Linked DNA regions of Homo sapiens: region 2 is linked to region 1. A link means that fine-mapping ties the variant in region 1 to the expression of a gene that starts in the linked region. Tissue or cell type: whole blood. Region 1 holds a variant in brackets; the other region holds the start of a gene. All regions are shown on one strand. Distances are from middle to middle.

Region 1 (2,683 bases):
TGCCTGTGGGGGCGTCCTGGGCATCCCCAGGAATTCACGGCTCCAAGCCCTTGAGCCCTGGGCGAGGGGGTGCGGGGGAAGCACCTGGGGTGGGGCAGTGAGCCGGGAGCTCCTCCTTTCTCCTGTTCCAGCCTGTCTACTCCCGCCCTGCACGCCCCTACCCACAACCCTGGCCCCTAGTTGAGCCTCTCACTCCTTTCACAGCAGCTGAGGCAACCCAGCCAAGAGCCTCAGTGAGATGGGTTTGGGTAAGGTGGAACCTTAACCCCCAGACTCCCAACCTCATCCTGTTTTCAGCACCCATGAGACTGGCTCTAGCACCCCCTGCTGGCAGCCGAAGCTGACTCCTTTAGCCTGAGTCCACTGGAGGTGTCACCCGTGCGTCCCCAACTCCAGTCCCCTCAAGGGCTCCACCCGGCCCAGCCCACATGCCTTTGTTGTGGCTTCCAAGTTTTCTTTTCCACGTCACCTGCGCTGCTTGCTCTCTGGTTTTGTTGACTTTAGTGCTGTCTCTGTTTGCTCTGGCTGAGCCAACAGCCTCAGGATGAAACTCTGAGCCCAGGAAGTGTGAACCTGAGAGGCAGCAGGCTGGGGGTGGGGACGGAGGCAAATGAGAGACAGGGTAAGATCTGAGCTGGTTCCCGGGCTCAGGCTGGAGTTCATGGCAGCTCACTCCAGCAGCAGGGTCGGGGCCCATGGGCAGGGATGGGTGGAAGGATTTTTCCAGCCTCACTGAGAGCAGGTCTTGGCCTGTCACATCACTGTTTTGAAGTTTATTTGGAAGCTCAGCCCCAGAACTCTAATGCCTCACATCTCCAGGAGGTCTGAACCCCTCTGTGGGGCAGTGCAAGTTCCCTGGAGGCTGCGATCTGATTTCAGCCCCTAGTCCTTCAACCGAGCAACACAGGGGACACCACCATCCCCCATAGGAAGCCTCCAGGACCGAGCTTTCCTGACTTTCCGTGCGCCTCCATGAGAATCTGTTACCCAGCAGCCTGGCAAGGTGACCCCACAGGGATTATTGCCCCTCTACAAATTGAGCCCCAGACATGGTAAAGGGACATCTCCAAAGTCACCAAGTGAGAGCTTCCTGGCTCCTAGTCCAGACTCTTTGGCCCTCTTCAAGCATCTCTCAGATCATGGAGTGTGATGGGAAGGCAGCACCAGGCCCCAGGTGCCGGGGCAGGGGCCAACACACCAAGTTGTGGAGTGTGCATACAGTGCCACACAAACCAGGGGCATGCGCAACCTGGGGCTGACGTGCTCACCCCACAGCCCCTCAGACCAGACGCAGCCAGGACCCTCACGTCCCTCCTGCCTGCAGAGGGGGTAAGAGAAAGCAATGACTGAGTGCCCACCTGCCACTCACTGCTCCCAGCCTGCCTGTGTGGCCTGTGGGGTGTAAATGCCGTCTCAGGGTTAGGACAGTGGAACCACCCTGGCCTGCAGCCGGGAGCTTAGGGATAAGGTTAGGGAAGCTGCTGCCGTCACCACAGGCTTAGGGTGCCCAGCTCTGCCAGCTGATCCAGCCAAGTCCTTCTTGGGGAAGATGAGCTGTCATTAGAGAGCCCTTCCCACCTCTCAGACCTCCGCTTCTTATGGCTC[G/C]ACAGGCTCTGAAGCTGCAATCCTTCTTTTCAGGAAGACACCTGTCACATGTGCGTGTGCTCTGGGAAGTGCTGTGTGTTCATCCACACTACCTCCGCCCATGCCACATGCCCCCTTCGCACCTGTGGCACACAGTCTAGGGGGCTGTGTGCCTGGGGACTCCCTATGTATGCTCAGTCAGACACGGGTACACATCTTGGACCCAGGTGTGTAACACAGCATTGCGCCCATATAGGTGAACACACAGGTGCTATATTCTGCATCCCTCCTACCCCTTTCAGAGCAAGGACCATTTGAGGGTGAGGGGTGAGTCACCTGCCAACCTGTGGGACCTGCTGAGCTAGCAGGATGGGAAGCCACAAGCTGACAGCTGTGGCTTCAAGGGACCAACACCCTGCGTGGGGCCCGCCCAACCACCAGCCTCCAGCGCCCCCAAACCCCTTACCTCCACCCTTATTAAATCCTACCCACACCCTCAGCCAAGACTCATGCCAGAAAGGCACCTCTATTCCTTTACAATATATATCTGCAGCTGAGCTGTCGCTGCACCTCATGGGCTACTACCAGACCTCTGCTTCTGTACAGATGCCTCAGGGAAAAACCAGGGTGGCAGCAGGACCCATCCCTCTCCTCTCCTCTGTCCAAACCCTGAGACTCCTAACTATGCCCCCCATGGAACCCCTTCTTGTTGATAATTCATACCTTTTGCGCCTCTTATTGAGCACAGAGCCCCATTCTAGGCCCAGACGGGCTCTGTCCCCTCCTGCCCTCTCTCACCTCTGTATTCCTGCTCAGAAGTCTGTCCCCAAGTCTGGGAACTCCCTGAGGACAGAGGGGCAGTCTGCAAACATAGACAGAAAACCAGGAAACCCGAGTAGCCCAGGTGAGTTGATCGTCCCCCAGATGAAGGAAGCTGGTTAAAAGCCCTCCTGGCTCCTCCTGTGCTTTGCCAGCACACCCAATTAGTTACCAAGACAAGTCTTGCTGGGTCTAAAGAATGTCCTCAACTCCTACTCTGTGCCAGACGTATCTGTAAATACATGGTCAACTTTGTACATGCGTCACTCGGCTGGGCATG
Region 2 (2,683 bases), 31 kb after region 1:
CCACAGTGGGCCAGCTGGTCTGTACTACCCAGGGCTGGGGCAGGAACGGAGTAACCCACTCACTGCAATGTAGCAACTGAACACAGAGGAAAACAGGTGTAACCACATGAGCGGCTGAAAAATCAGAGTAACTGGGACAGGAAATAGAACATAACTGGTGGGTCTGCCAGACCTAAGAAGTGCAAACAGAGTCACTCAGAACAAAACCAGGGTGAAACTGGTGTGACCAAGGAGTAACTAGGACTGAGGAGTAACTCAGGCAGGGAAATGCTCACTCAGAGAACCCACAGAGTAACCAAGAGGCCAGGGAGTAACCAGAATGCTTGTCGTCTTCTGCACAGACGCTGACAGCATCTGTCTGGATAACAGACAGGGCCTGGGAGTCGCTGAGCACCAGGTGAGCAACTTTAGACACGCGTCCTCTGTGCCTGGGCCTAGCTTCCTCCCACCCTTCTACCGTCAGAATCTGCCTCCCTTCCCACTTCGCTGTTCGCAGCCCATGTGGCCTGCACCCTCTGCCCCCACTCGTGCAAACTGTCCTCACTCACTTCAACCTTTGGACTTTTTGAGGCTTAATTATTCATTAGAGGCCAGACACCCAGGACCCAAATAACCTAATAATGGCTCATTTGCCTCCGCCCCCTCCCCTACATCTGGGGGCTGGGATTCTGGGAATCTGGAGGGGTGTGGGAGGCAGGGGAAGTGGCTGGCTGTCCCAGACTGCAAGCGTGACCGCTGCCCCCAGCCTGTTGGCTGAGTCACTTGTGGGAGGGTAAACGATCGGCACTATCACTGGGGAGTAACAGCTGTCATTCTGGCAAGAGTCGGAGCTGTCAGAGAGGGGGTTAGAACCGTGGGGAAGAGGACTTTGGAAGTCAGCTTGATCCTCCGCGGTTAAGCGTGGGGGTCACAGCTGGGGAGGTGGGTCCAGGCTACCTTGGAAAACACAGCCCCTTCGGGGAAGTGAGAGTTTGGGGAGTGCAAGGGCTGGAGAGAGAAGGGCTTCCCCGGCTCCCTCCACTCACCACCAGGATGAGGGTCCCCAGGCACTCGGCCAGCGCCTGTCGGAGCAGCCGGTAGCGGATGTGGAGCATCTCCCCGCAGCGGGACACCAGCTCCTTCTGTCGACCCATGGCGGGGCAGGCGGCGGCGCTGTCGGGCGGGCAGGGGTGGCGGGAGGCGGTGGCGCAGCGAGCAGCGGCCTCCAGCGCTGGTGGCTCCCTTTATAGGAGCGCTGGAGACACGGGCCCCGCCCGCCCTGCAGCCCCGCCCTGCAGTCCCGGAGCGCCGAGGAGTGCGCGCCCCCTCGCCCCCGCCCCACCTCGGCTGGGAGGCTGGTGCGGACGCCGGGTGGAGGGAGCTGCGGGCATGGAGTGTGAGGAGCTTTGAGGGACGGGTGGCCTTCGGAGGGCGCTTAAGGGAGGGGACGTCAAGGGGGCTGAGAGGCTTAGGCAGATCTGAGAGCCAATGGTGGGATTATAGGCAGGGTTCAGGGCCATGGCTGGAGAGGATGCAGCTGTCATAGAGACCACCTGCGCCCTGTGATCACCCCACTTCCTTGCGGGCAGGAGGAGACCTGTCAGAAAGAAACTGGCCGCATCTCTCCAGGATGACTGGACCCAACAGATCCTCAGTTCGAGGCAGGAGGAGGAGGCTGCGAGCCCCAAGTGAGAAGCAACACTGTCTCTTCTGTCAGGACAGATAAGGCACCGACCCTTCAAGGGGACAGCTAGTGTCAGAGGGGCAGCAGTCCAGACTCAGGTGGGCACACAGACACACGTGCTGAGTTCCAACCAGACTTCATGGGCCCTTCTCCCTGTGCTATGAGCACGTCGTGTGTCGCATGTCCTGGCCAGCTATGTCCACAGCTGTGTCTACACATGGCGGATGTCCTGTGTGCCTAATTGTACGGCTGGGCATTCCTCGTGGCTGTGCACATGCCTGTTGAACATGGCTAGGTGACCTAGCTTGTCACACGTGTACCTGCGTGCATTGCTCACATGGCTCCAGAGGCTGAGCTGCAGTTGCCCCGACATGCCACATGCCACATGTTTGCCAGCAGGCTGAGTCCCAGCTGTTTTTAACCCTCTCCTCTCCCATCTGACTTACCCCCAGCCAAGGAAGAGTCTGTCTCTTTTTTTTTTTTAGACGGAGTCTCTCTCTGTCGCCTAGGTGGAGTGCAATGGCGTGATCTCGGCTCCCTGCAACCTCCACCTCCCAGGTTCAAGTGATTCTCCTGCTTCAGCCTCCCGATTAGCTGGGATTACAGGTGCACACCACCATGCCCAGCTAATTTTTGTTTTTTTAGTGGAGATGGGGATTCACCATGTTGACCAGGCTGATTTCGAACTCCTGACCACAAGTTATCCACCCGCCTCAGCCTCCCAAAGTGCTGGGATTACAGGCGTGAGCCACTGAGCCCAGCAAGTCTGCCTCTTTAAGCAAACTTAATTATGGGGGAGTCAGCCCTATCTGAGGGGGATCATGGGACAACCTTGCCCTCTCTCTCTTTTTAAAGAGTAGGGTCTTGCTCCATCACCCAGGCTGTGGTGCAATCACAGCTCACTGTAGCCTCGAACTCCTGGGCCCAAGTGATCCTCCCACCTCAGCCTCCAGAATGGATGGGACTATAGGGACTATGTGCCACCATGACACTCAGCTAATTTTTAAAAATCTGTTGTAA

The links. PIP is the estimated chance that this variant, and not a neighbour inherited with it, causes the effect.
Region 2: it holds the start of AQP3, and the variant in region 1 is fine-mapped to the expression of AQP3 in whole blood (TOPMed, PIP above 0.99).

Annotation. Positions count from the first base shown.
Region 1 is chr9:33,415,268-33,417,950 of GRCh38, forward strand. No RefSeq gene overlaps it. Among named protein-coding and RNA genes, the nearest start is that of AQP7, 14 kb to the left of the region's middle. RefSeq lists an enhancer at 1-369. The variant G/C (reference allele first, on the strand shown) is at 1,606.
Region 2 is chr9:33,446,398-33,449,080 of GRCh38, forward strand. AQP3 (aquaporin 3 (Gill blood group)) reads right to left here and starts at 1,196. Exons shown (of 6, transcript NM_004925.5): 1 at 1,026-1,196. The coding sequence starts at 1,133. RefSeq lists a silencer at 1,182-1,371.